Linked DNA regions of Homo sapiens: all the other regions are linked to region 2. Evidence: fine-mapped expression QTL. A gene starts in region 2. Each other region holds a variant in brackets. All regions are shown on one strand. Distances are from middle to middle. Region 1 overlaps FAM120A (family with sequence similarity 120 member A). Region 2 holds the start of FAM120AOS (family with sequence similarity 120 member A opposite strand). Region 3 overlaps FAM120A (family with sequence similarity 120 member A).

Evidence for each region. PIP is the estimated chance that this variant, and not a neighbour inherited with it, causes the effect.
Region 1: its variant is fine-mapped to the expression of FAM120AOS in whole blood (TOPMed, PIP above 0.99). The same link has a PIP of 0.9 or more in blood mononuclear cells.
Region 3: its variant is fine-mapped to the expression of FAM120AOS in whole blood (INTERVAL, PIP above 0.99).

Annotation. Positions count from the first base shown.
Region 1 is chr9:93,471,893-93,482,488 of GRCh38, reverse strand. It overlaps FAM120A (family with sequence similarity 120 member A), which reads right to left. Exons shown (of 18, transcript NM_014612.5): 3 at 6,151-6,233. Among named protein-coding and RNA genes, the nearest start is that of FAM120AOS, 24 kb to the right of the region's middle. The variant G/C (reference allele first, on the strand shown) is at 5,102.
Region 2 is chr9:93,447,958-93,458,355 of GRCh38, reverse strand. It overlaps FAM120AOS (family with sequence similarity 120 member A opposite strand), which reads left to right and starts at 4,775. Exons shown (of 3, transcript NM_198841.4): 1 at 4,775-6,209; 2 at 7,757-7,877. The coding sequence starts at 5,647. It overlaps FAM120A (family with sequence similarity 120 member A), which reads right to left and starts at 6,671. Exons shown (of 18, transcript NM_014612.5): 1 at 5,967-6,671. The coding sequence starts at 6,440. RefSeq lists enhancers at 4,575-4,869, 4,933-5,062, 6,642-7,191 and silencers at 5,782-5,961, 6,262-6,391, 6,532-7,061.
Region 3 is chr9:93,499,003-93,509,598 of GRCh38, reverse strand. All of the region lies in intron 5 of FAM120A (family with sequence similarity 120 member A), which reads right to left. Among named protein-coding and RNA genes, the nearest start is that of FAM120AOS, 51 kb to the right of the region's middle. RefSeq lists a silencer at 539-734. The variant G/A (reference allele first, on the strand shown) is at 4,555.

The DNA.
Region 1 (10,596 bases), 24 kb before region 2:
CCAGGCACAGTGGCTCACGCCTATAATCTTAGCACTTTGGCAGGCTGAGGCAGGCGGATTGCGTGAGCTCAGGGGTTTGACACCAGCCTGGGCAACAAGGTGAAATCCCGTCTCTACTAAAATACAAAAAATTAGCTGGATGTGGCAACAGCGTGTACCTGTAGTCCCAGCTACTAGGTAGGCTGAGGCAGGAGAATTGCTTGAACTCGGGAGGCAGAGGCTGCAGTGAGCTGAGATCGCACCACTGCACTCCAACCTGGGCAAGGGAGCAAAACTCCGTCTCCCAAAAAAAAAAAAAAAAAAATGGAGGTGAATCTAAAAGTTTTCTTGATACAGCCTGATAGATTGCCCCCGGTATACGGGTGCCTCAGGGAAAGATAATGCTGGTAAAAGATTACCAAAATAAGTGAATCAGAGTGGTAAGGTGATAAATACACAAAGACATTTAAATCAAAAGGAAGAAATGCCAGGGCTAGGAATTAGAGGGAGCTCCTAAGATGATGTAGAAGAAAGCAAGAAGAGTACTTTAGGGGAAGCTCCAAGAGAGGATCATACAGAGAAGATGGCGTTCCATGAATGAGGGTGCAGCCTGGCCCAGGACCCAGCCTGGCCCTAGGATAACCAGCTGATGGGGTCAGAAAGGGCTGGGGGAGGACAAGTACTTCTAGGGGAGGCTCACCATGCAGAAAAGGGGTCTTTCAAAAAGACTGGGAACTGCAGTGTAAACAGAGTAAAACCGACTAAACCTAACTAGAAAGTAGAACTGCTGGTAGTGAAGTCTCAGGAAAGGATCAGTCCATATAAAATCTGCAAGCTGGGGTGTCCCAGACAAGGAGGCAAAAGGAGCTCGAAGGGCTCAGTGGTTGGGAATACTTGGCCATCACAAACAACTGGCATGGATGGAAACTCAAAATATATGAAATTGAATATGAAGTTAAGGAACACAAAAACCACTAAAATGAATACAATGACCTGAAACTAAACAGGTCCAACTTAAATGTTATTATACCCAAATACGAGGTCAATAGGATGTAGAACACCCAAGTGACAAAAAGCCTTCTGTAAAGTGTTTAAAAACCCAAGATTCAAGAAAACCAGAGGCAACAAGAAACATGTTTTTTTAAAAAAATAAAGCCAGCAAACATCTATAAAACATTTTTAAAAATTAAAACAACAAAATGCCCACCCAAAATAAAAAATTCCCGTAACCAGTTAGGACACAAAATCATACAATTTTTAAAACCCCAAAAGTCACATTTTGAAAAACTGCTCACTTAGCACATGTCTACAGCCAGGGGGCCCTGCCCAGGGTGGACTGCCACAGCCGCAGGCCGCCTCTGATGAGTACAGGCCACACCAGCTATGCAGGGCACCCACAGGCTCACTAAACCTTATGTCCAGGCAGACCGAATGGCCAGCCACTCCCAGGGCACAGGAGGAGGCAGGCATGGGGGCACCACCTGAAGGGAAACAGAGGCTGGGCTTGGGACTGGAGCCCATGCTCTGCAGGCTCAGCTCTCTGGGTACCAGGCTGCCTGACGCCTTCCATTTCTCTCATGCAACACTGCCAGCCACACTAAAACCATGAAAGGAGCACAGCGGCCCAGAGCAACACAAACAGTGGGAGCCTCTTCGAAAGACCAATATGCATCCAGCCCACTTTTCATTACTGTAAATACAATCACAAATCTTCCTAATTATAACACTGAGTCCAAAAACACATTGAAAGGATATTCAATGTATTTTCCTTATTAAAGATATGACCCTTTTAAGAAATATTGCCATTGGAAAAAGTTTAAATGAGCGAGGAAATGAGATGCACTCCTGGAATGCCTTCCCCATTGTTTGGGAGGCATTCCAGGAGTGTATCTCAACTCTTCCAGGTACATAAAAGATTCTCTTATGTTTCCAATCAAACAGAGTAACTTACTTAGAGCAAAGTAAGATAAACGCAGCCTCAGGCTTGGGTGTCTGTGCAGCCCTGGGGTTTTACCCATCCTGGCCCAGCCTGCTCTGTATCATCTGCTGCCAGGCTCCCTGTTCTGCAGGACCTGGGCCTGGGTAGAGACAGAGGTCGCACTCCAGCCCAGCCTCCAGGCATCTCCGGGACTGCAGCAAGGAATCCCAACAGCAGGTCTCCCGAGGAATAGGGAGTAACACATAACTCTTGTTTTCTTTCTCTCATTATAGAATTGACCACATCTTAGAAGCTATCTGACCCCTAACCCCATCCTACAATTTTACATGTTACATGAAATGGCCCAAGTGTTCTGAACATAAATGAAGTAGTCTTTGCATCTAAACCTAAGAAATTCAATGCCCACCTTACTAGCAGCTCTTAAGGTTACCATTGAGGTATGAAGAAGTCACCTTACATCCTATTTCCTACTGTCTTCTACCAATTTTAGGTTCTGAGTATGTCTAACATTGCATTCATAATCTAGTAATAAGCACGATCTACTACTAACTAATAAGGCAGGACAAAACAGAATTTGGCTCCCATCCTAGCTTTCCTCTCTGCAGATATTACCCAATGATTTAACAGTTGTTCTCCCTTGTGCTTCTGAGCCCGCAGAGCCCCAAAGCAGACGTGCTATTCTTTCAACACAACCAGGGCTGTGGACAGTCAGGGAGGACTTCACAATTTCTAACTGATGTAGCTGGTTCGATGACAGTCAGAGAGTTAAAAATTTACAGTGAATGAATGAATGCATGTAGTGAAATTGGTAAAGACACATGTTTAAAAGATGAGTCTAAGGATGCTACTTATAAAGAAAACAAAAATTCATAGTGCTGCCAACATACTGAAGATTTGGAATCACATAAATTATCGACTACTGATGACTTCCTATCCATGGTATTTTGTGATTTTCATCAGATGGTAAAAAGATGAAATTTTCTCATGATTTTTATTGGTTCCCTTTCTAACAGAGTATACTGGAAAAATAGCTGTTAAGGACACGTGACTTTGCATCCTCAAGCTTAAGCCTCCTTGGTCCATCCCTTTTATCATATTATATTTGTACTATTTTGCCAAAGCCAAATTTATTATTGTTCACAGAGGGCTGGTGTTCTATGAAGTTAATATCTAATCAATTCAAAGCACCTCTTAAAATGCAATACCCTACTTTGGGAGGCCGAGGCGGGCGGATCACGAGGTCAGGAGATCGAGACCATCCCAGCTAAAACGGTGAAACCCCGTCTCTACTAAAAATACAAAAAATTAGCCGGGCGTAGTGGCGGGCGCCTGTAGTCCCAGCTACTTGGGAGGCTGAGGCAGGAGAATGGCATGAAACCGGGAGGCGGAGCTTGCAGTGAGCCGAGATCCCGCCACTGCACTCCAGCCTGGGCGACAGAGCGAGACTCCGTCTCAAAAAAAAAAAAAAAAAAAAAAAAAATGCAATACCCTAATCTTAAACCTCTCATCATTTCAACATAATACAAAAACACAAAGAATATTTCAGAAAATAAAACTCAGAATATTATGGAAGATATGTAACAACTATCCAAATTTTCAAAAGATGCAATTGGTTTTACAACTGGGGAAAAACAAAGAGACTAAAATAGCAGGTGGGATACATACAATTCTGTAGCACATCCATCAGTCATGCTCATGGGGAGTAAAACCACATCCAATTTCCCCTATGTATATTAAAATCACTGAAATGGTGCTGCATACAAAAATGTGAATGAAGGGTCAAAACATTAAAGTGAGCCGGGTGCTGTGGCTCACACCTATAATCCCAGCACTTTGGGAGGCCAAGGTGGGTGGATCACCTGAGGTCAGGTGTTCGAGACGAATATGGACAACATGGTGAAACCCTGCCTCTACTAAAAACACAAAAATTAGCTGGCGTGGTGGCAGGCGCCTGTAATCCCAGCTACTTGGAAGGCTGAGGCAGGAGAATCACTTGAACCCTGGAGGCAGAGGTTGCAGTGAGCCGAGATCTCACCCCTGTACTCCATCCTGGGTGACAGAGCAAGACTCTGTCTCAAATAAAAACATTAAAGTGGCTAACAAATGCAATTTCTGAACTTATCTCAAAACCAGGTGCACTTGCATTTCATGTGTGACTTTAAAATCCTACAACGTATCAAGTCATCTGAAAAATAATTTAGGATTTCTTCTCCAATATGCCATAAAAGTACTCAGCTAATATCAAAATGCATGCATAAAGCTTGACTGGATCTCGATCAAAAAAAAAAAAACCTATAAATGACTCTGAAAAAATTTGAATATGGGCTTAATATTAAATGATATTAGACACTGCACTCCAGCACAGGTGACAGAGCAAGACCCTGTCTCAAAAAAAAAGATATTAAAGAATTATTAATTTAGTTGATGTCATAGGAGTAATATGATAAAGTATCAAAATGTCCTTATTTTTAGGAAGTGATGGAGCAAGCTGAAGTGGTGGAGCAAGCTGACATTTTCATGGGTAAAGTGTCATATCTGCAACTTACTTCCAAATAGTTTTTGTTAAACAAAACAAAACACAGACATATACTTTATGGCAAAATGTTTATAATTGTTGAACCAAGATGGGGGATATACGGATACACATTTCTCTATTCTTTCCACATTTCAATACTTAAAGATTTTCTCAACAAAATTTAGGAAAAACACACATATAATGATGTTATTCACTTGGCAATAGATTGAGCTGGTTTTCCAATAATTCTTCAAACAGCTCTTCACTTCTAACCCTGTGACATATGAAGCAGGGCTAGTTTAACTTAGACATACACATATAGCCAGAAACCTTGGGAGTATCTCACTCCTGCTCTTCAAAACAAAATAAATCTTGTAGGAAACAAGCTTTCATTTGTGTCTCACTTACAAAAGCATAATGCTTAACAGAGCTACTGAGCACAGGTGCAGTGCTCTTAAGTCCAGCTGATTACACGCTGCATTTCCCCAATCCACATTTCAATCATGGCATCACCAGAAGCTTAGAGTCCGAATGACAGATCACATCACTTCATTCATGAAAACATACAGGAGGGATTCTATGGCCAGAAATGTAATTTCTAACAAGAGAAGAAAAACTAATTTTTGAACAAGAAGTTGAAAACAGTCCATACCAAACCCCATTAGGGT[G/C]AAAAGGAGAACATTTTATAGCATGCCAGAGATGAAAAAGAAAAAGCATGCCAGAGATGAAACAGCAGGGAACAAAATGAAAGGAGGAAAGGAATTCTACTTCAGCTTTTGGGTATCACCAGAGTTAAAGGTAAATTAAAATGTAGGAAGAAAAACTCCCATTTGAAACTAGCCACCAATTAAAATTGTTTATGGAGGGAGGGTAATTACGACAACATTCAAAATTTTACAGCCCTTCGGAAAACACCCAATTTAACCGCCACTCTTTACTGTAAGGAAGCAGTCCCAGGGTGGGAAGCAGATACAAAGTCTAGGTCCCCATCTTCCTAATTCCCCAAGTCAAGAAAGGCACTTGAACTGACAAATGATCATTACAATCACAGGAGTCACTAACAAGTCCAAGCTGAAGTTTTCCAGTGCCTCGTGCATATCTCACTCATTACTCCTATGCTCACATCAAACACAGACACTTCCACTGCAGAAAATCAGAATTAAGTGCCTCATCTCTGATGTTTATTACTATCACAAACAGGAAGGGAATCAAAAGGGAGAAAAAGAATATTAAGTTTTAATAAAATAGTACAAATGGATCACTTCCATTTGAGTCTCCCTCATCATCCAAAAAGCTTTATAAACTATTTTATAATTGTAGAAAATTAGTTATGAAATTTATCAACTATGCAAAGATGTTGCTCTAAGTGACAAGTAACTATACTACCTAAAGACAAAATTAAAATTTTTAAGTAAGAAAATTAATATATAAAACATCAGCTCAAAGATTTCCTTCTATCTAGGTACACAGCACAAAGAATTCCTTAAGGGAAATTTTCAAGGACATTTATACATTTACCTAACATATAGGTGTTGAGAACAAGGGATGGTAGCATTGTTGCTTGCTTTTTAAGGCAGTGCAGATCCTGAAATTATGGGAAAACATGGTATTGCTAACTTTGTAGCATCACCAATAAAGGGCCTAACATGTTATTAAAGTAATAGCAAACTCACAGTTGATTATTACAAATGCTAGAAAAATAAAGTGAAATTTGTACCTTTAGTGAGGCTAGTGGATGTTCTGGACCAAGTAAACTCCAGTGAAAGGAAGCCAGATCTTCATCAGGCAGAATGTGATTTCCTGGAATATAAACATGGATAACATAAAAGCAATCATCTTAAGTAACATAGGGAAACTTTCAAAAGTGCTGCATATTGTCACCTATAGTAGAAAACTTTCAAACAGAAACTGAGAACAAATCTTCATCTCTTAACATAAAGCGACATACAGCAGGCAGAATCTTTGCAGCTGCTTCAAGAATGACGGGAATTTCTAGTGCAGTCCCAACAGCATTCAACCTAAGAACTGCATAAAACTGAAACAACTTCACAGCACAGTATTAAAAATAAACACCAGTTTGCAAAAGGTCAGTCTGACAATGTCAGGATATCAAATACCAATTAGATTCAAGTTTTCATTTGTTCATGAAATGACTATGGTTCAAGCTTTCATCTGTTCATGAAATAGCTACGGTTCAAAATTACATAAAAACACCAAATGTGAAATCTGCACAATTATAAAACCTTTCTTAGCAAGATTAAATGACAATGACTGCTGATTGTAACATGAATCAACACCCTTCTCCCATAATTTCCATCACCACCCACAAACATATGTGAAAAGGCCCATCCTACAGTAATACTCATGAGGCCATTAAGCTGCTCATCCTATCACCAGTGCTGTCACAGTCTACAAACAAAACTGTATTCAATTGAGAAACTATATTTGGGGGTAATACTCTACTTTCATAATAATGTTCGTATGCCTGGTATACCTGATCTTTAGTAGGTTAGCTATCTCATTGAAATCTCAAAGCAGTAATTTCCTAAATAACCATGATTTTTATAACATTACTTAATCACCTCCACATTATGATAGCAAATTCATTAATTTGCTACTAACAGAATGCAACACAAACTAAGACCATTTGGAATATTGCTACGTTATAATATAGGTTGAGCATCCGTAGTCCAAAATGATGTAAAGTCTGTAAAATCTGATGTAAAATCTGAAACTTTTTCAACATCAACATGATGCAAGTGGAAAATTCCACACCTGTGCTCATAAGATGGGTCACAGTCAAAAGGCGGTCAAAATGTTGTTTCCTGCACAAAATTATTTAAAATGTTTTACAAAATTACCTTTAAACTATGTGTATAAGGTATATATGAAACATAAATGACTTTCATGCTGACTTGGGTCCCATCTTTAAGATACTTCATTAGGCATATGCAAATACTCTAAAATACTTCTGGTCCTAAGCATTTCAGATAAGGGACACTCCACCTGTATTCCAAACACACAAACACACAAGCCAGAGGTACTGAACTCCCGTGATGTCCAAATGAGCAAATCTGAACCGTAACTGCTCAGGTTTGCTGGCTTGATATTGTTTTCCCGTTAATGGATTGCATAGAATTTCACGGTGAAGAATGAAGTGTCTGGCCGGGCACGGTGGCTCACACCTATAATCCCAGCACTTTGGGAAGCCAAGGTGGGCGGATCATGAGGTCAGGAGATCGAGACCATCCTGGCTAACACGGTGAAACCCCATCTCTACTAAAAATACAAAAAATTAGCAGGGAGTGGTGGCGGTTGCCTGTAGTCCCAGCTACTCGGGAGGCTGAGGTGGGAGAATGGTGTGAACCTGGGAGGCGGAGCTTGCAGTGAGGCGAGATCATGCCACTGCACTCCAGCCTGGGCGACAGAGCAAGACTCTGTCTCAAAAAACAAACAAACAAAAAAAGAACGAAGTGTCCGAAATTTTGGAAGCTTCAATTCGAAATAATATTAAGGCAACTCCAACATTAGTAACAGTCCCTGTGAAAAATTGGGGGGTGAAATACTTAAATGAATATTCCAACATTCCTAAAACAAAATACTTTATATAGCTATACTTTCCATTACAGAAGGGAAAAGAAAAATAAGCTTTCTCATTTGAGCACAGTGAAACTTTTCCAGCCTGGCCAACGTGGTGAAAATTAGCCAGGTGCGGTGGCACACACCTGTAATCCCAGCTACTCGGGAGGCTGAGGCATGAGAATCGCTTGAACCTGGGAGACAGAGGTTGCAGTGAGCCAAGATCGCACCACTGCACTCCAGCCTAGGCAACAGAGAGAGACTCCATCTCAAAAAACAACAACAACAACAACAACAACAAAAACTTAGGAGCTTACCTATAACTTCACTAAACTTTTTGAAGAGATTGCAAGCCCTAAATTAAATTGACAACATATTGCAATTGATTTTTTCATTTATTTCAAAACTTCACAAACTAACAAGCTAGAAAAGTATCAGTTGGCATCATCTTCCAAATACCATATTCAATGTTTCTTAAACAAGATAAACAAGTATTCTTCCATTTTTCAAATGAGCTAAGGCATCCATATTCTAAGAGCATATGATTTTCACATTCAAAGTCAATTAATATGCCAAGTTATTTTACATAGCATTTAAGCAAACATGGAACTTTCCATATAATGTGCCACCCCCATACTCACTTTTAACATCAGAGGAAATATCCTTTTATATTTTAATATTTGAAAATATATTTAAAAGATTCGTTTTAATCCCCAAATCCCCAAAGGCACAAGAGTTCCCTTACTAAGCACTGTATTTGAGATTAGATCCAAACAAACACAAGTTGTGAAATCACAATTTTGTTGACTGACTCATATAGTAAAACATGAAATGCTTTCACAAAATAACATATAAAAAATTATGTGGCCAGGCGCAATGGCTCATGCCTGTAATCCCAGCACTTTGGGAGGCTCAGGCAGGTGGATCGCCCTGAGCTCAGGAGTTGGAGACCGGCCTGGCCAACATGATGAAACCCTGTCTCAACCAAAAACACACAAAAAACTTTAGCCGGATGTGGTGGCATGCACCTGTAGTCCCAACTACTTGGGAAGTTGAGATGGGAGGATCACTTGAGCCTGGGAGGTGGAGGTTGCAGTGAGCCGAGATTGCACCACTGCACTCCACTCTAGGCAACAGAGTAAAAACCTGTTTCAACAACAAAAAAAGGCTGGGCGCGGTAGCTCACACCTGTAATCCCAGCAAAGACAGAGGTGGGTGGATTGCTTGAGCTCAGGAGTTCAAGACCAGCCTGGCCAACATGGTGAAACCCTGTCTCTACTAAAAATATAAAAATTAACCGGGCGTGGTGGTGGGCGCCTGTAATCCCAGCTTTCAGGAGGCTGAGGCATGAGAACTGCTTGAACCATGCAGGTGGAGGTTGCAGTGACCCAAGATCACACTACTGTACTCCAGCCTGGGCAACAAAGCAAGACTCCATTTAAAAAAAAAAAAAATTGTCCAAAGATATCTTAACGATGAAAACTTGAAAAGCATAGCCTCTGCAGCCCATGGGCTGGCAGTTTGCTGATCTTTTAAAGTTAATCTTTCCCTGCCCAGTCCCCATTTTCTGGTAAGGTTTCTAGGAGGTCTGTTGGTATACATCCTACAACTTATTGACTTAAAATGTACTCTCCTTTGAGACCGATTGGGAGAAATAGAAATCAATAGCGCAATCGTTTTGATACTGAATATTGAAAAGTGTCTCTTTGAAATAAAGAACCAGTCCCTCCAAAAAAATAAAAATAAATTGTGACTCCTTACAATTTCTAGTTGTGTAAAACTGTTTTGGAATGTTTATAAAAATCTTTCTGATAACTAGGCATTTCTAAAAATAATCCACAATATAATCCCCTCTTGAACAGGACTGGATTGGACTGCTAGCCTCTATAGAATATATACTGCAAGGGAGCACAGTAACTGAGCACTAGAGACCACACAGCTTCCCAAACTGGCCTTGTGTGTCCAAAACAGCCCCAAATCCCATCAGATTCATGGATTCTAATCACAGGAGTGCCTCCCTCCAAAACATGTTTACTTATATTTGGACACAATTCTTATAAACTAAGTAAACTAGAGCTGGATATTAAAGTAGGGTGAGACAAGCACAATGAAAGCATAAGAAAGGGTAGCTGACAAAAGAGCAAAGAAAGAAAACACACAATGCAAATATAAAGTGACAGACAAATATATTACTTCTTGGGAATTTTTTTTTTTTTGGAGACAAAGTCTCACTCTGTCTCCCAGGCTGGAGTGCAGTGGCACGATCTTGGATCACTGCAACCTCCACCTCCCTGGTTCAAGCCATTCTTGTGCCTCAGCCTCCCAAGTAGCTAGGATTATAGGCGCCCACCACCATGCCCGGCTAATTTTTGTATTTTTAGTAAATACAGGGTTTCACCATGTTGGCCAGGCTGGTCTCAAACTCCTGACCTCAGGTGAGCTGCCCACCTTGGCCTCCCAAAGTGCTGGGATTACAGGCGTGGGGGAATTATTTTTAATTAAAGAAAATTAAAATCTAATGTCATAGTTAAAACAAGATTTCATCCTTTCTGGGTATTCAGCATAAGGAATTCCTCCAAGGAAA
Region 2 (10,398 bases):
AGCCAACAGAATGGGAAAAGAGAAATGGCGGAAGGCAAGCAGGGGACAGACGGTGGGAGCGGCAAGGAGTGACAGGGACACAGCGTTCAGAAGTGTTAAAGGTGGGGTCACTTTTCTCACTAATTATACGGTCCAAGCTCTGGAGTATCTAAAGTGCAATTAGAAATTCACTCCAGTTGCAGAATCAGGATGCCAGATGAGAGAGGTGAAGAGTCAGTGTCTGTGTTGATGGGACACAGTATAAATAATATATAAGAATGTAAAACCAGGTGCTGAAGTGTTTGAGGACAGTGAGGCTGTGCCTTGGAAATGGTGAGATGTCAAATAAACATGTGGGTTAGCACTCACCTCAAAATATGTAATATTGAGAAGTATATAATGAAGAATATACTATGGAAGTGGCCAAGAGGATTGTGGCATTTAAGGAAACATCATATTGCAGTAACCCCAGGAAATGGAAGCATTTTGATCATTGAAAAAGGTTCAAGGAGGCAGACAGGAAAAGACAGAGTGGTTTTTGATAGGTTTAATTTTAAAGTAAAAAAAAAAAAAAGGAAGAGATTTAGATGACCATGATAATTGTTGATAAAGATCAGTGCTCAAATAACAAATTGGTGGCACAAGAGCTGAAGCTAACTTAGAACCAAGTTTTCCTTCGCTTGGCATTTTTAAAATGGAATAATTTTTTTAAAAATCTGGGTTTCTGGCTTTCTTGCAAAGTCTGAAGTTCTGGTAATGTTGACTCTATGGTCCTACGTGGCTTTTAAAATGTGCATACCTTTAGCTCTACTGTGTGTATATATCATGTGTATACCATCTGTCGGGGTTGGATAAATTATGGAATACTATTTAGGGACTGAAAAGACTTAGAGCTCTAAGTATAGACATGGAAAGATTTCTTACAAATAAAAAAGCAAACTGCTGAATAACGTATAGTGCAATCACATTAATGTGAAAAAATGGAACTATATTATAATAATATATATTATATAACTTATGACATAAAATATATGGCCTACACAGCCACTGTGGAAAATATATGGCCATTCCTTAAAAAGAAAAACAGAATTACCATATGACCCAGCAATCCTACTTCTGAGTATATACCCAAAAGAACTGAAAGCAGGAACTCGAACAGCTCTTTGTATACTATGCTCATAGAAGCATTATTCATTATTCCCAATAGTCAAAAAGTGGAAGCAACCCAAGTATCCACCAGTGGATGAATGGATAAACAAAATGTGGTACATATACACAGTGGAGTATTACTTAGCCTTAAAAGTTAAGGAAATTCTGACACAATCTACAACATGAAAGAAGCTTGAAGACATTATGCTATGTGAATTAAACTAGTGACAAAAGTAGTACAACAGAGAAATATATACAGTGACTAGTTTGAGGTATAATATGGTCAGTTTTGAACCTTAAAAATCTTCCAGTCAATTAAAGGTCCTTAAGAATAAGATGTACTGTCAGTGTCCAGGATCTACTGATGGACATTTTTCTTCTGAATAGCAACATGACTGTTCCTATCCTAACTAGAAAACATAGCTGAAGCAGTTAGCTATCGTAATTGACCTGGGGGTGAGAATTGTAGGTAGGCACACCCACAAAGTATTCTTACACAAAGAAGCTGAACTTTGACTTTAGCACTCCACTTCCGTCTTGAGGTTACTAATGACTTGTCCCCAGATGTCACTTAATCACTAGATCCTGTTTTTACACATGAAAAATGGGGTAACAAAGCACTCTGAGGATTAAATGAGATGGAATATGTGAGAAAGGATCTAGCAAGCACCTGGTCTGATACCAGTTCATTCTCTTCCCCCATCAAGTATACATGAAGGGAGACCATCATCTCTAAATACAAACATGTAATTATGCTAACCATGAAAATTCTAAACCATAGTCTAACCTCACATTCTTCCACTGACTTATAGCATGAACGCCATTTTATGTAAGAGCATTATTTAACAAAATTCCAATGGAAGCAAATTCAGAAGATCTGAAGGACTTTATTATAAACCCTTACACTGATACCACAAGTCATATAGCAGAAACATTTATGAAAGCTCCAGTGACTTCATGCCACTAAGATTTTAAAATAAACATAAGTCATTCACTGAAGTTTCAAAGGTTATAATGACCCAAGGCACACAAGAAGAAACACTGTCCAAGTAACTAGCTAAAGCCAAGTTCAAATTAGGCTATTTTAGGACCTACACAAAACTAGTCAATACATAGGCCAAAGTATTATTATTTTCATTGTTCTGGCTGTCTTTCCATGTAGACCAACTTCTAATGGTTAAAGAAATACAATTACTACTACTGAACAAAAAAATACAATTACTACTCTGTAAAAGAAATAATCTCTAAATCAAAAAAGATTTCTCCTGGCCAGGCGCAGTGGCTCACGCCCGTAATCCCAGCACTTTGGGAGGCCGAGGCAGGTGGATCACGAGGTCAGGAGCTCAAGACCAGCCTGGCCAAGATGGTGAAACCCCGCCTCTACTAAAAATACAAAGATTAGCCAGGCATGATGGCAGGCGCCTATAATCCCAGCTACTAGGGAGGCTGAGGTAGGAGAATCGCTTGAACCCAGGAGGTGGAGGTTGCAGTGAGCCGAGATCGCGCCACTGCACTCCAGCCTGAGAGACAGAGTGAGACTCCATCTCAAAAAAAAAAAAGATTTCTCTAAGCAAAGGTAACAGGAAATTATGCCCCTCTGCCAATTTACAAAACACTAGAAAGCACCAATAAGATGCTTAAAGTTTTTATAAATGTCTCATTTACTCAACATTATATATACTGAATTGTTCATGTCAATTCCTTTGCCAGTGGTTTTTACTTAATCTTAAAAAAATTATCATATGATAAAATTAACACATTTACTTTGGATGAATAGTTCTGATTTTAATGTATGGTAGCATCACCACCATCAGAATACAGAACAGTTCCATCACTCCACAAAGATCTCTCCTGCTGTCCCCTTTATGTGTACATCCTTCCCCTCCTCTACTCTCAGCACCACTGAATTGGTCCCTATCACTATAGTTTTATAATCATCCCTTTTGAACCTGGCTTCTTTCACTCAGTATAAAACCTTAATTAAATATTCATGCAAGTTGTTACCTACACCAGCAATTCCTTCCTTATTATTGCTAAGTAGTATTCCATAGTATGGCTATACTGTAGTTTAACCATTCACTTATTAAAGGATACTTTGTTTCCACGTTTGGGCTATTATGAATTAAGCTGCTATGGACATTTGAGTACCAGTTTTTGCACAAACAAAAGTCTTCATTAGGAAAATACCCAGGAGTGGAATTGCTGGATCGTATGATAAATGTATGTTTAACTTTATAAGAAAGTGCCACTGTTTTCTGGAGTGGTGGTGCCATTCTGCATTCCCACAAGCAATGTGTAAGGATCCAGTTGCTCAGCATTCTTGCTAGCACTTGGTATTGCTCATATTTTTTTCTCTTTTAGCCATTCTAATAGGCATGTAGTGATATCATGGTTTTAAACGTTTTAACCACTTTATGGGTATCTTTTATTAAATGGTATACACTGTTTCAATCCCTTAAACAGAGAATGCTGAATATTAATTTTTATGACTCAAAATCATCCTTATAGAATAAACATTGTACTACCCTCAGGGACCAAGGAAGTACATAGGGTTGTTTTCCTTTTCTTAAAATAGCCCCAGAATTATGTTTGCTTTTTATAGCTTTTTAAATCTCTCTTGTCACTTCTTGCTATTAATGGTGCTCCTGCCTCTGGCAGACTCTCCTCTTCATCCTCTTCTCAAGCTGAGTTTAGAAAATAGATAACCAAGCTTGTTAGAATTACATATGAAAAGAGGCCAGTCCATGAGTGAGAGAGCTTAAAGGATTCTTCAGTGAGGAAAGCAAAAGCACCCCCCTACACCCGCCAACCCCCCACATCACTGTACCCAAACTTCCTGACATCTTGCTTGGTTGCTGAGAAATTTCTAGTAGCTAAATCTCTTAGGCACTTTTCAAAAAGGTAAGGTTGCCAGCTAAGAGACCACCAAGTAATTGAGTTATTACAATATTCATTTTGTGCAATTCGCACTATAATATGACCCTAGGTCAATAATTAAAAGCTTAGCAAAAGCAAAATACAGACAAAATTATCCCATTATCCCGTGTCCAGAAACCTAAGTGAAAAAGACGATCTTAAATGGAGCTTAAATCTAGTTTCCTAACACTGACACATTGGTCTGAATTCTGAGCACCTACTAGGTGTGCGAGGCATTCAAAGGGGTGCAAAGATAAAGAAACTGTAGAATTAAAAAGAACTCAACAGTTCTTTAAAGATACAGTGACCATATGCATACATACTGATTCTAATCCTAAGTAATATTCACAGTGTTCCCTTGAAAGTCGCTTGACTAGTTAAGTAGAGAGCTGTGCGGTTACCAAAGGCAAGTCAGTGCAGCTCATCCTGTCTTTTAAGTAGTCTTTTCCATCTCTGAACAAGACTAAACTATGAACACTTTTACGCTCTATTAGGGAGATGGATCGCTTCAGACAAATGGCAGCACCTTACTTCCCTGAGCGCCCCAGGCTCCGATTCAGAAATTAAAAGGCAGGCACTTCCTCTCACCCGAACTTCCCTGAGGAATGGCAGCTGTGTGTCTGCCAGGCGCAGGGGCCAATCGGGACTCTGCCGGCCGCCTCCACCCACGACTTAAACACCATCTCACCAATTGCAACCGGATCGTGGGTGGGACTTCCGCTATCATTTTAGGCTTAACTACCACCATCTCCTCGCGGGCAGTGGGGGCAACCGCGAAGACAGAATTTCACAAACTTTCAGCTCCAGCAGTTTCAAGGAAATGTCAAATGACAAGATGGAAGACCGAGTGTCAAGAGCTAAGACAACAAAAAGGCCCCCAAAATTTGTTTTCAAGAAAACCAATGAAAAAAGCAAGCAATCAGAACGTGAAGTCCAGGATCATGGATGTGCTTATCTTCACAGTCACTGCTGGGTCCTGAAGTTCTCCTCTGGCCCAGTGCCAGCTGCGAAGCCCTCTGCCAAAGGGCCAGAGGAGGCCGGTGATATAGAGCTCTGATTACCCACCCGTCAGGGCACCGCTGAAGGTCACTGAATACTTACTGTGCACCCGAAAAATAAATCCTGCGAGTTCACGCCCGCGTAGTTCGCCCCCTGATTTTGAGCGACTCCTTTCGCATGGGATCTACAAAACCGAACTGCCTTAAAGACCTCTTTCACACGGACGTGAAGTCACAGAACTGACAAAATCCCATCCTGTCAAAGTGCACGGGTCTTTGAAATCTAACACAAAAAGCCATAGAAAGATTCTCTAAACACCCTGTACTAAGAGGAACACGGACAGGGCACTGCGTTCTGAAGTAGAGGCCAGGGCACTGGCCCTTAGACACGTCTCGCTGTCACCGGGCTAACAACATTGGCAAGGGCGGCGGCAGCAGCACTGATATTTGCAGCCCCCAAGGGCTCTGGCGAAACCCCCTCTATTACTCTGTATCCTGCCTGCTTCCAAGATGAACCTGTTGCTGGGAAAGAACAGGCTAAATTAGAAAAGGGAGTATTTTGTCAAAGTTGAAGGTGAGTGATAGCCTGCCCGCCTCAAATAGGATGGGAAAAACTAAGGATATTGGGGATGATGACACTGTCGCCTCCGAATTCTGGTCCGGGGCTCTCTCCCAGCCCTCAAGTGTCCCCACGCGGCCGCGGACCCCGAACAGGGACAGCTGGAGACGGGCTTGGGCAGCGCGCGGCCTGCACCCGCGGCCATCCATCTTGCAGCCCGGCCCGGCCAGGCTATCCCGGGCAAGGGCTGGGGGAACTCGCTGCCCCCAGCGCCGCCACGGCCGGGCGACATTCTGCGCCCTGGGAAGGGGGATAGGGGTGCGGCGCGGCCCCGGTCCCCGGCCCGCCCGGATCCCCGGCCTCACCTTGACGTGGAAGCGGATGAGCGCCAGGCGGATGCAGTGGGCCATGCAGACGGGCGGCAGGAACCAGACCTTTGGCGGCGGGGTGCCCTTGTTCTGGACATGGCTGACGATCTGCTGTGCCGTCTGGCGCTCGTTGCCCTGCCGCTTGACCCACTCGTGCAGCCGGGCCTTCTCGAGCGCGCCGTTGAAGAAGACGAAGAGCTCGATGTTGCCGCCGAAGCAGGCCTTGGCCAGCGCCGCCAGGTAGCCAAGCATGTGGTTCCACTGGCCGCCGCTGACCCAGTCGGTGTAGAAGCCGCCGTAGAGGCGGTGCAGGCAGTTGTCGGCGTCCACCAGCAGGCGCAGCGGGGTCTGCGGGGGCCGCTGCCGCCCGCCGCCCACCAGGCTGCCCCGGGCCAGCTTCTGCAGCTCCACCGGCACCACGGCGCTCGGGCAGTGCTTCTCGATGTAGTCCTGGAAGCCCTGCACGCCCATGGCGGCGGCGGGGGCGCGGGCGCGGGTGCGGGCGGGGGGCGGCGGGGCCGGGGGTGGTGGGGCCGTGGCGCGCGGGCGGGCTGGCGGGCGGGGGCGGCGGCCTCTAGGGGGGACTGGGGCGGGTCGGGGGCGCGCTCATGGCCGCCGCGGCCGCCATGTGCTGCCGCCTCCCAGGGCCATGTCTGGGGAGGGACCTGCCGCCGCCGCCGCTGCCGCCGCTGCGAGGCCGAGGCCGAGGCCGAGGCTGAGGGCCGGGGCGGGGCGGGCGGGCGGCGCTGACGTAGCGGACCCGCCCGGCGCGGACGCCGCCCAGGCCCGCCGGCTAGCAGGCGGAAGAGGCGGCGCCGGCGGGACGCGGCTCGGGGCTCCCGGAGGCGGCGGCGGAGGCGGAGGCCCGGAGTTGGGCCGGGACGGGATCCGGGAGGCTTCTGAGCCGGAGCAGGCAGCGCCTGGAGGCCAGAGGCCGTTCGCCCGCCTCAGGCCGGTCGGCCGCCGCTCCCCTCCCCTGCGCCCTGTTCCCGGCAGGGCCAGAGAGGCCGCCGCCTCCGCCCGGTGGTTCTCGGGCGAAGGGAAGCCGCGAAGCAGGTCCTGGGGAAGAGCTCGCCTGCTCCTGAGGGAAGCAGCGATAAGATGGCGCTTTGAAGGGGAGCCGAGGCCGAGTCACTCTGTTCGTCGGGACGCCGCCTTTCTAACGCCGCCGTCGGCTCGCACCACTCTGGGCCTGCTGCCCACACTGACTGCGGGGTCCGGGAGAGCGGGATGCTGGCCGGCCGCGCCTGGCTTCTTGGAAAGAGCAGGAAGGAGCGCGAGAATGCAGTTCCGCGGCAGGTGCTCATCCCAGCAGCTTCGGGCTCTCGGTTGTGGTTTTTACACCTATGACAAATGACATGGCCAAACACACCATAATGTCTGAAGGTACAGGTAGCCCTAAGCGCCTGCTCGTCACGGAAGAGACTGTCTTGAGAGCACAGGTCTGTTGCAGCGTGGGAAAGCCTGCGTTACCACTGCGCAATGGCTAGACTGAAACGTGCGCCTTTGCAGTGGATCTCCCAGCTCTTCTGAGGGAGAGGGATTTGAATCTTGTTGCTTTAGTAGCATCTTCTGGAAGGAGGTCGTTTACGTAAATTCTGTTCCAAAGCTCTGTCGTAACTGCTTCTAAAATGAGGTTGATACTGTATGTATATTAGGCTTGCATAAAACATTTTCAAAAAGAGATTAATGTCTTTCAGAATATAAATTTAGAAACCCAGCACTCTAAAAGTTTTAAAGTGCCGCTTTTACTTACCTTCATCTCTCCATTTGTTCTTTTTTTGGAGAAACCTCTGTAGAGGAGCAGGATGCAACCGACAGGCTGTGGCCGGACAGCTGCTGCCCAGCACATGGAGCCTGCACGCGCACGGTTTGGCCAAAGAAGCCCCCATACTCCCGGTGAAAAAGGCAAGTTGGATTTTTCTGCTTTCTTTTCTGATACCCACCTCAAATGCAAGCCAGTATCATACGTACATAAATTAAATGCTGCTGGTATTTTAGGAAGTTACATTTAAAAGCAGGCTGACAAGTTATGCCACTCACCTATGCATAAAATTAGTCACAAAGCCAGGATGACATGTTATCTAAAAATAATACAGGCCAGGTGCGGTGGCTCACGCCTGTAATCCCAGCATTTTGGGAGGCCGAGGCGGGTGAATCATTTGAGATCAGGAGTTCGAGACCAGCCTGGCCAACATGGTGAAACCCCGTCTCTACTAAAAATGCAAAAATTAGGCGGGCCTGGTGGTGTGTGCGCCTGTAATCCCAGCTACTTGGGAGGCTGAGGCAGGAGAATTGGTTGAACCCGGGAGGCGGAGGTTGCAGTCAGCGGAGATGGCACCACTGCACTCTCTAGCCTGGGCAAAAAGCGAGATTCCGTCTCAAAAATAAATAAATAAATAAAAGAAATAATACAGTTAGCCATTAAATAACGAGCAAAATCCAGAAATATCCAAATTTGCTTTTATAACCCAAGGCAGGTTCACAAGGTGAGGAGTAGTAGTTTTTAATCACTCGTATTTTCATTTGTAGCATTGCATTCCGTGTATTTACCTTTTCTTTAAACACTCTTGCTTTTAATTTTTAAAAATGCATTAGTGCGGCCGGGCGTGGTGGCTCACGCCTGTAATCCCAGCACGTTGGGAGGCCGAGGCGGGCAGATCACGAGGTCAAGAGATGGAGACCATCCTAGCCAACATGGTAAAACCCCATCTCTACTAAAAACACAAAAATTAGCCGAGCGTGGTGGTGCGCACCTGTAGTCCCAGCTACTCGGGAGGCTGAGGCAGGAGAATTGCTTGAACCTGGGAGGTGGAGGTTGCAGTGATCACGCCACTGCACTCCAGACTGGCAACAGAGCGAGGCTCCATCTCAAAAAAAAAAAAAAAAAAAAATGCCAGTGCCAGTATCTGGAATTCTGGAAATAAATTTATTTTCACCTTATTATATTGTAGAGGTCTAAGGTTCTGGAGTCAGGCCCCCAATATCCATCTTATGATAAGTCTGTGCCCTTGCAAAAATATTTACCTTATTGAACCTTGGATTTTATCATCTGTAAAATCAACATATTAATAGTACTTAACCTCCCAGGTTGTTATAAGGATTAAATCAGATAACCTGTGTGCCTGCCACACAACAAATGCTCAATAAATGTTGGCTTTTGTAGTTATTTCCAGAAACTGTATTTGTCTAGACTTATACTCGAGAACATAGACCAGTTATTGTACTTTTGGAAAGTTTAAAATTCATTATTGTATCATAACACATAAAACTCAATTCTTAGTTGCCCTATTTAGCTTTGTGTTCTTTAAAAAAAAAAAAAAAAAACTTTATTTATTGAGTAGCTATTGATGGTGGGCAAAATGTTTAGCTGACAAACACTTATATACTCTGCATCCTTAACTCAAATTCAGGGGTTGGTTGAAGTTAAATTGCTTAAATATTGAGGTAAAAATAAACATCTGGGCCGGGCGCAGTGGCTCACGCCTGTAATCCCAGCACTTTGGGAGGCTGAGGTGGGCGGATCACAAGGTCAGGAAATCCAGACCATCCTGGCTAACACGGTGAAACTCCGTCTCTACTAAAAAAAATACAAAAAAAAATTAGCCGGGCGTGGTGGCAGGCGCCTATAGTCCCAGCTACTCAGGAGGCTGAGGCAGGAGAATGGCGTGAACCCAGGAGGCGGAGCTTGCAGTGAGCCGAGATCACGCCACTGCATTCTAGCCTGGGCAACAGAGCGAGACTCCATCTTAAAAATAAAAAATAAAAAATAAACATCTGTATTTAAAATTTAATAAAAAGTTATGTCTTCTTGGAGGTTACAATATGACAACTAATGGTTGGGGACTTTTTCTTTTTTTATTTTGTATTTATTTTATTTATTTTTTCTCCCCCAAGATGGAGTCTTGCTCTGTTGCCCAGGCTGGAGTACAATGATGTGTTCTCAGCTCACTGCAACCTCCCTCTCCCAGGTTCAAGTGATCTCCTGCCTCAGCCTCTGGAGTAGCTGGGATTACAGGTACACACCATCACACCTGGCTAAGTTTTGTATTTTTAGTAGAGACGGGGTTTCACCATGTTGGCCAGGCCAGTCTCGAACTCCTGACTTCAAGTGATCCACTTGCCTCTGCCTCCCAAAGTGCAGGGATTACAGGCATGAGCTACCGCGCCCAGCCTAATATCATTAATTAATATTTTACTTAGGTGAGGTATCTAACCACCAACAATAACAGATGAGTTTCCAGTTTTTCAAACAAGGTAATAAGAGACCTTAATGCTGCCCATGTAATCATTAGCAGATGTTGGGAGACCAGCAGACTGGAGCTAAGCAGGGAGTCTGCGATCATGGAAGAGAGCAAATTAATCCACACTAGGGATTCTAACCTATAATGTTTACCTAGCACCAGCCCTGTTAATTAATTGTCAATTT
Region 3 (10,596 bases), 51 kb before region 2:
TTATTAGTAAAATACTGCAATAGTATAATATTGAATACCTCATGAAAATAAAATTTTTTTAAAAATCATTATAGTAGCAAAAAACTAAACACGTTCTTGACAACGACAGCAGAGACATGGCTAAATTACATAGCACCTCCACATTGCAGAGTACCAGACCATCTCTGGAGAAAATAAGAAAGTCATCACCAGCTTCTATAATGGGCCCCACTTACGGCTCATAGCCCCCAGGCTTGGTCAGTCCCAACCCCCGAGGCCATCCATGCTCCCTGCTGAGCCCACTCCTCTGCAGGAGGCCCCAGGCACTCCACTTCTGCCCTGACCACAACAGGACAGGAGGGCCACTGGGTGGGTCCAGGTGGGTCCAGCCATCCAGCTGTCAGCCAGGCATGGCCTGGGGCAGTGTGGGCCACCATGTGGTCTCTTTCACATTTCCACTCTTTCTGCCCTAGAGGACCTGCCTCTATCCTTTGGTCCTTTTGCTAGAGCACTCAGCTGACTCAGGCAGGTTACACTACAGATTTCTCACCAGAGCCTGCAGTGGGCTCTGTTCAGACCTCCAGGGTCTGAGTGGCATGCCATTGAGTTCCCTGGAGGCTGAACACCTTTTCTCCGCAGCTTAGGATCAGTCATCTGGCATTTAAAATCATTCTTTACATATTGTCTTTCCAACTTCCGAGTGGGATATTTTCTCATGTTCTCAGATTCTGGGGGGTATGTTATTGGAGAGAGATCGTGTGTATTTTCAAAATAACTGTTAACACTATCTATTGAGCAATGCGACACTGGGATCAGGGCTGTGGTGACACATATGAAGTAGGGCTGTTTATTCTATGGAAAAGTCAGGGGAGCAGCAGGACACACAGACCTCATGCAGCACAGGAGCCCCTCTCAGTCAGGATGGAGTGATGCCCAAGAGCAAAGCAGGGGCAGGATCCCCATGGCCAGAGCCCAGAACACCAGCCCCAGGACCAACCCAGCTTCTCCCTCAGGTTTGTCACAAGTAACTTTCACAACATGAATTCCCTCTCCTGGGCAGGCTGCCTGAGCTGGAGGTAGCAGTGCCCACCCCAGGCCACTCAGCCTGCTGTCTCCTAGGTCTGCATCCAGGTCAGTCACTGGGCGTTGCAGGAAGGTGATCCCTCAGACACAGTCTGGTCTGGTAGAATGTGACCAGCCTTGGGGACCTGTCAGGGCACAGGCTGACCACAGGCTCCTGTCCCAATGAAACACACCACGGGGCCCTTCCCAAGCACCTGGCAGCTGCTACACCCAGAGGTCACTGTGTTGCTGTGACCAGGACCAGGTTGCTCATCACTGTGTAGCATCTGTTCTTTGCTTAGTACTGATTAGCACCTTTTTCAACATGGTCCTATTTGCAAATTTCTTCTCTGACACACAGCAGCCTGGCTGCTCTACACATATGCCCTCAGTCTACTCACTCTGTGACCTCCCCATGCTGCTTAGTGGAGGCTAGACTTTCAAAAGACCAGGTAGCAGGAGGCTGTCTGCTATGAGAGATCAAGCTCCCCTACCTTCACTGTAAAACCACATGTGCACCAAAACCACTCCCTTCTGTATCTTTAACCCCTCTCTCTCAGTAGTCATCATCCCCATAACAACTTCAACCTGTTCAATTCTCCCCTGCATTTCAAAGCCCCACCCCTTTATGGAAATGACTGGAGAGAGGCGTGGTACTTGCCACCCATCCTATCCTCTTCTACGAATTTCTATACTGAGGAAGAAGGAAAGCTAAAAATGACTTTTCCTAGGATCCACTGCCTCTTATTGAGGGCCAACCAATTGTACATACACAAGGTTTGGGAGCTCCAAATTCAGCCGAAGCCTGCCCTGAGTGGTCCTACTGACACTCCATCTATCAGGCAGCGCCCTCATCTTGCCCAACCTCTCAGAACTCAGCGCTGCTAACAACTGTGCACAGGGTATCTCCCCTGGCCTCGCTGAGCCACTCTTTCTGTGCACCCACCTCCTGCATCTGGCCCCAGGGGCGCCATCTCTTTATCCTCCGCTTCCACCACCACAGCTCCTCTCAGCATTACACACCAGCAAAGCTGCAACCCATGACTCCAGCTTAGCTCCTCACTCTGCTTTCACCTGTGCATTCTAATGCCTGTTTCCCATCTCCACCGGGATCCTAGAAGGCGCCTCAACATTCGTATCCAAAACCATCCTCCAAATCTGCTCTTCCTCCAACCATCTTTATCTCATTAATGGCATCCTCACCTGAGCTGCTCAAGCCAAAACTCTGGGAGCCATTTCCCCCGAATTCTTTTCATTGAGCTTCTATAATCAAGCATCAATATCTACTATCTACTTATTCCATCTCCCAAAAACCTATGAAATCCACCCAGCACTCCTGCCTCCCACAGAGGAGAACTTGCCCCAGGGACTGCAACCATGCCTTGCCTCAATACTGAAAGAGTTTCCCACTCCTTTCCCTATACCTGCCCTTGCCCACTCTGATCCCCTCTGCACACTGAGGCCCAAGCAATTCAAATGCACACCTCAGCACACCACTCCCAGATTAAAACTCTTTCATGAGGATATTTCTTTAACATGGAAAAGGTAGAGGAGATAATGCTAAGGGTTAAGATGACAAGACATCAGACTCCCCCTTAAGATCAAGGGCTAGACAAGAACAGTCACCATCGCACCTTCTATTAAAAATCGTGCCCCGGCCAGGTGTGGTAGCTCACACCTGTCCATTTGTGGACAGCACTTTGGGAGGCCGAGGTGGGCAGATCATGAGGTCAGGAGTTCGAGATCAGCCTGGCTAACACAGTGAAACCCCGTCTCTACTAAAAATACAAAAATTAGCCGGGCATGGTGGCAGGCACCTGTAATCCCAGCTACTCGGGAGGCTGAGGCAGGAGAATTGCTTGAACCCAGGAGGTGGAGGTTGCAGTGAGCTGAGATTGTATCACTGCACTCCAGTCTGGGCGACAGAGCGAGACTCCATCTTGAAAACAAAAAAAAAAGAAGAAAAAAAAAAATCATGCCCTAAGTCACAGCTGGCTCAGTGGATCAGGAAGATCAAAAAGATACTAGAGGAGACACAATCAGCCAAAGCAAGATACAAATAAACTATGAAAATTAATAAGAACTGAGCAAAGTTGTTAAGATAAAATCAACTTACAGTATTAATTTGAAAATATAAGACACACATAGAAATAGCACCCAAAAATAAATATTTAGCAATATCTCTAAGAAAAGATGTTATGAATGCTTAATGAAGAAAATTCAAGTTTACGGAAAGATATTCAGGACAATTCAAATCAATAAAGAAATGTAACATTTTCTTTAGTACACTCAATAATAAAGATTTTATTCTTTCCAAATTGATCTACAGAGTTGGTGTAATTCCAATCAAAATCTCCACAAGGATCATAAAATGTACATAAAAGTGAAAAGGATCAAGAACAGTCTCGACCTCTTGCAGAAATATTACATGGGCAGATTTCCCCAATCAGACATCAAGTATTATTACAAGGCTATGGCAACTAGAACGGCATAATCCTGTGGCATGAAGATAATCAGAAATTCAACAGAACTGAGCCCAGAAACAGACCCACACACGGAGACACTCAACATGTCAGAAGAGGATAGCATTCTCAGTGGACAATACTAAGGCAACAGGTTCTCCACACGGTGAACAAGAAACTGAATTCCCTCACTCAAAAACCATAAACAAAATTCAGTGCCAGGTAGTATCAAAGGGCAAAATCATAAATAAAACTTTTAGAAGACAAAGTGTTTATCACCTCAGGCTAGGGAGGAATTCTTCCTTTATGTTTTCTTTTTCTCCTTCTCATGTAACACTTTAAACAAACACAAGAAAAAAGGGAACTGTACAATAAGCCACACATATCTATCAACCACCCTCAAAATTAACCAGCACACAGCCTATTGCGTGTCATCTGCACTTCCACCCTTCTTTGCCCACTACTGCATTATTGTGAAGCAAATCTCAGACATGACATCATTTCATCCATAAATACAGGATAGGACTTAAAGGTACAAACAACAAAGGGAAAAATTCATGTATTTGACATTAAGAACTCTGATATCAAAGCACATCATGAAGACAGAAAAATGCAAGCCACAGATTGGAAGATTATTATTTGCAGTCCATTTATCTGACTAGCATCCAATATATATATTAAGTATCCCTATGAATAAGCAAAAAGAAAAACAACCCAACAGAAACACAAGCGAACAGGCCGGGCGCAGTGGCTCACGCCTGTAATCCCAGCATTTCGGGAGGCCGAGGCGGGCGGATCACGAGGTCAGGAGATTGAGACCATCTTGGCTAGCATTGTGAAACCCCATCTCTACTAAAAATACAAAAAATTAGCCAGGCGTGGTGGCGAGTGCCTGTAGTCCCAGCTACTCGGGAAGCTGAGGCAGGAGAATGGTGTGAACCTGGGAGGCGGAGCTTGCAGTGAGCCGAGATTGCGCCACTGCACTCCAGCCTGGGTGACAGAGCGAGACTCCTTCTCAAAAAAAAAAAAAAAAAAAAAAAAAAACACAAGC[G/A]AACAACATGAACAAGCATTTCACAATAGAGGAAACCCTACTGGCCCATAAACATAAAGATTCTCAACCTCATTAGTAATCAGGGAAATGCAACTGAAACCTTTACAGGATATAGTTTCATAATCACTAGACCAAAAAATAATAAAACGTGGAGCAATGAGAGGGTTCTTTCACTTCTGCCAGGAGAATAAATAGGTGTATCCGTGTCCGGCAGCAGCAGAGGCTTGAACAGGGCCCTACCCTGGAGGTTCCCTGGAATTCCACTCCTGGGCACATCAGGTCACATGAAACAATGTTCACAAGTGCGCTATCCATCATGGCAAGCAGCTGGAAACAGTCCATTTTCCATCAACAGTAGAATGGACAAATATATATTAATACAATGGAATGCTGCACAGCATTAAAAAATGAACTATGCCAACATGAATGAAACACAATAATATAAATATTAAGAAGGCAAGTCAGAGGAGTACATGCTATATGATTTTATTTCATAACAAACAAAATGAAACTATTTAGTATCCAGACATACAGACACGATAAAATTATATAGAGAAGCACAGAATAACTAATACAAAATTGAGGGTGGTAGAGAGTCGAGGAATGCAACCAGCGAAGACATATAAGAGGGCTAAGATATTAGTAATGTTCTAAGACTAACACATTGTAGTATGATAGTTACAAAATCATTTTTTTTACAGGTAAAAATTATTCCATGAGCTTTCACGTTCTAAGAATAAAGTCTAAAATCCAAGGTGGTGCCTGGCAACTGCACTGCCGCTCTCAGCATCACCTGACCACTCTCCCCGCTTTCTGTGCTTCAACCACATTCTTCTTATTTTTCTTCTTCACTATGTCCTCCTAACTCAGGACCTCTCACATGCCACCTCCCCTGCATGGAATACACTTCTTCCCATATTGGCACCTTGCTAGATGCCTGAACCCCCAAACCCCACTCAACAATAATCTAATCAATCAGAACCAGCCATTTTAATCGTAGATTGATTCAATCAGGTTGGTCTTCCTTGAGGTTCCTGTTCTCTTTCCTGCAGGATTCCCTGGTGTTCACTTCCCCACTATACATTCATCTGTAGGGGCAACGGTAACTCCTCTCTTATTTACCACACCATTCAGCACCCAGCACACTGCCTGTCATGAAATGCACAAATCAACGAGCTCTTTACTTTAAAATATATATATATATACTTTTTTTTTTGAGCAGTTTCAAGGTTACAAAAATCTTGAGCAGAGTACACACTTCGCATTGGTGTGACACATTTGTTCCAACCAATGAGCCAAACCTGGCTACATTATGATTACCTAATGCCCACAGTTGGCATTAGGGTTCACTCTTGGTGCTGTACGTATTCTGGATATGGCTAGAAGTATAATGCCATGTATCCACCGTTACAGTATCATACAGAATAGTTTCACTGCCCCAAAAATCTGCCTAATCATCCCTCCCTCCCCACAACCTCTGGCAACCCTTGATCTTTTTCCTGCCTCCATACTTTTGGCCTTTTCCAGATGTCCTATAGTTGGAATCGCACAGTATGTAGCCTTTTCTGATTGGCTTCTTTCACTTAGTGATATGTACTTATGTTCCTCTGCATCTTTTCATGGCTTGATAGCGCATTGCTTTTTAGTGTTGATTATTTCATTGCTTAGATACACCAAACTTTATTTCCCTGTTGACCTACTGAAGACATATTGGTAGCCTCCAAGCGTTGGCTATTATGAATAAAGTTGCTTTAAATATCTGTGTGCAGGTTTTTGCGTAGACATAAGTTTTCAACTCCTTTGGGCAAACACCAACAAGCATGACTTGGGAATTTTGTAAATATCTGCGAAGCTGTCTTCCAAAGTCGCTGTACCATTTTTGCAATCCCATTAGCAGCACAATCTGTTGCTACCCATCCTCACCAGCATTTAGTGTTGTTGGTGTTTTCTATGTTAATCATTCTAACAAATGTGTAATTAAAATGTGTAGTAGGAGCCCATTTACTTTTCACTAAGGAAGGCCAATGACACAGTGGCTACTTCTTCAGCCTCAATTTCACCTGCACACGGGATCTGTGCCCATAGATTCCACATCCACAGATCTGAGGTGAGACCTCAGTGTTAGTTGTGTTACTTGTTACTTTAGTAAATTCCACCAATGATTTTGAAGCAACTGGTTTAACTAGGGAACTAAATATTTTGAAATCTCAACTATCACATATCTTATTTGTGCTTGCATTTAGATTGGTGATTTCGTGGAGAGCTATAGCAGATTTTACATGCTGAGACAGAAAGAACAAATCACAACCATTTCCAGATAGGCAGGTCCTCGCTTAGTAATTATGACATAGTGAATGCTTAAAAATAAGTATGCATCTCACCACCACTTATTTTCAAAATCATCTCAAAATACACAATTTCTGGGAGACTATATTGCAAGTGTGCGTGTGTGTGTGTGTGTGTGTGTGTGTGTGTGTGTATGTGTCCTCCTAAGAACTCTACACTACCCAATAACTGTTTAGAGATCTGAGGTATTTTTCTCAATATTGCAGATAGATTTACAGGCTTACAAAGAAAGGCACAGAGGATGAGTTGTGGTTCCTAAAAGCCAGGCCAACTGGTACCTAGCTAGGAACATTCCTTTTTAAAAAATATAAATTCCTAAGGCCCAATTAAGATGCTAAAATAGCAGTTTTGAGGTGGAATCTAAAATTCCAGCCAAGTTTAGAAACCTCTGGTTAGATCAACTCACCCCATGTTTTTCCCCTATAGCCATGCTCTCTAAGCTTATAATATGATTACCCTAAAATTTCTTCAAAACTCTACACATATTCCAATTTCTGAATGATTAATAAGATAAATTCTAATACAACAAGAAACTAATATCCCCACATTGGTTCTTCAAAATTCTGAATTATTTTCCTGTAGAATAATATAATGGACTGTGGTTGGATTCTATGACAGATCACCAAAGACCACTTAGGACCTATCTACTACTTATAAAAATATTTCTGTGGAAAATACATCATGGGTTCTAACTTGAGTTGCCAGAAAGGGTCCCACCGACTCCATGTTGTTCCTTCTAGACTTTCAACTTAGGTTCCAGTCTTCGCCCTGTTAGTTTCACTGGTAGGATCCCAGTAGTATGCAGGGGTAAAAATCAATGACAGCTAATGTAATTTATGTTTCTTCAGAGTTATCAGAAAAAAACTAAAGTTATTTTTACAAGAATCCATTTCTGCTAGTTCCAAATCATGTGTATGCAGCTTGAAACAAAACGTCCTTCCCAATCTTGCCTGAAGCCTCTCTCCAGGCTTGTCTCCTGCCATTCCAGACTGCATACCCGTCATCTTAAAATTCTACACTGCCCAAACTTCCTGCCTGGCTGTCATTCTGTGCCTGTACTTTTGTTAGTCCCTCCGCATACAACCCTCATTTCTGCAACAGCCAGAAGCATCAGGGAATGCTGTACAGGAGGATTTACAGGCAGTTCATGCCTACCCTAAGCTGCCTCAAACTATCATCCCAAGCATCCCAAACTCTACCAGTTACTTTGCTGTTCTCCATAAACCACCGAGTAGTGAAAATGAAAGTGAAACTAAATTCTGAGTAAACTTCACCTCTAAAATACTCACCTAAAATCTTAATAATTTGATAAGAACACAAAAGCACTTGACAGAACATATTTTTAAGATATTCAAACTTAACTCACCTTGCCTATTCAAAACATCTTCATAATTATGAGCCCAGATCAATGCCAAATATTAAGTGTGCTGCCTTTCTCTATACTTATCTTCCTAATTTTCTCCTAAGTAGATTTTCCAGTCCCAAGTACACTCTAAGGACTTTCTAAACTACACCTGCCATACAGACTGTCCCACAGGAGCACAATGTCAGTGAAACACAGGAGACTGCCGGCCCCACCTCTGAGCGCTCCTTCAGGCTCCTCACTGCTCATTCCAATGCCCAATCATTCAGTGCCTGTTGAGGCCATTCTGCCAATGAGAAGAATAATGACAGTATCTACTATCAGACAGTATCTGTTATTCTTATAGGCAGAATTACCTAAAAGGGCATTGAATGACTGAACAAGTACTTCACTAAAGCACCTTACATACGCCTTCTCTTTTAATATTCACATAATGACCCCATTCTATAAAATAGGGAGCTCGAGGTCAGGAGGCAGTAGGCCACAGGTGGCAATGTTCATGCTCCCCATCATTCCCACAAGCAATTATTAGACATCTTCTGTGTGCAGGGTATACAGTAGACACACTGAGATCTGGTCCCATAATGCCTCACCTTAACTGATGAAACAGTATACAGCTAGTCTCCCTCCTGCTGATGCTCTGTGCCCCCTTTTCCAAAAATAATCCTAAAACACATCTCACCACTTCACTCTCTTGATTTAAAAACCAAGTGGATCAATTCATTCAGTCAAATATTTATCCACTGGGGATATAAAAGTAAAGGTGACTAATAGGCCCTCATTACCCTAGACTTTACATTGTGGGGAGTGACGGGGGAAGGGGTGGTGGTGGTGACAAATAGAAGCCAAGGAGTGTGCAGAGATTTAAAGCCAGGCAGACCTTGGAGAACACGACAGCCTGGATCTCACAAATCAGAAGGGCACAAACACAAGCTGGTCAGAGAAAGGAGCCCTCCAGGCACAAAAGCCGGCCCAGAGGCCCAGGGCAGAAGCTAGCTTGGTTCATGCAAGGCAAGAAAGGAGGCTGCGCTCAGGAGTGAGAAGCCAGCAGTCTCAGATGATGGGGAGGAAGCAAGGTAAGTAGTTGGGAATTTATTCCAAGTGTGACGGGAAGCCAATGGGGAATTCTGAGCATGGGAGTAGCACAGTCCAACTGCCATTTTTAAACATTACTTTGGCTGCTGGGAAGAAAATGGATTGCAGGGGAGCAAGAGAGCAGCAAAGAGCCCCACTGGGAGGCTGCTGCCATTTACTGACCTCGCAGTGGAGATTCAGCCACTCCATGCCCATCTCCAGGTTACAAGCCCTACCTCCTTTATTACAGGGCATCGGCACAGGCCATGTTTCCCTGTCCACCACCCAGCCACATACATAGGCAGCCAAAGCCAGTGCCATGCCTCTGATCTCCAATGCCCAGTTCCTAGCATACAGCAGACACTATGCTTGAATAAATGAAGGGTGCAGCTCTTAAGGCCACTTTCAATCTTGGAATTAGTCTTCTCAAATAAATACAAAGTCTCCTTCCAGTAAGAGTCTCTTGAACATGCAATCATTCTTTTGTTAACTTAGATGAAGCAAACAACACAATTTAAATGAGAGTTGGGGTCTATTTCTCATACTTCTACTTACAGTTTAGTGCTTTATAACCTCCACAAGACGTTCAATATGAAGCAGGCTTCAGGCTAACAGCTTATAAATATTTTTATTTCCCAATTTCAAATCTCTGAATTAACTTTTGGTCTTTTGCAGGCTGAACGTGGTGGCTCATGCCTGTAATCCCAGCATTTTGGGAGGCTGAGATGGGCAGATCGCTTGAGGCTAGGAGTTCGAGACAAGTCTGGCCAACATGGTGAAACCCCATCTCTACTAAAAATACAAAAATTAGCTGGGCATGGTGGCGCATGCCTGTAATCCCAGCTACTTAGGAGGCTGGGGCACAAAAATCACTTGAGCCTGGGAGGTAGAGGTTGCAGTGAGCCGAGGTCACACTACTGCACTCCAGCCTGGGCGACAGTGCAATACTCTGCTCAACAACAAAAAAGAATTAAAAAAAAAAAAAGGCAGGGGTCAAGAAAAGAGAGACTACAAATACACTGCATTTATGAAATCACTTGCAGTTGTGGAGGCCCTTCTACGTCCTCAGGCAATTCTGTATTTAGAAGCGGATATCTCAGAGCTGCCAAGACGTCAACATCCCCTCGACCTGCTGCCTCATCTGCACAATGCCCTCTGATTCTTCTTCATCCTATGAAGGCTGTTAAGTTCTCTTCCTCCTCAATATTTTCAGGGATTGCTACTGAGTCTGCCCAGGAAGTTTGGCTATACTTACTGGC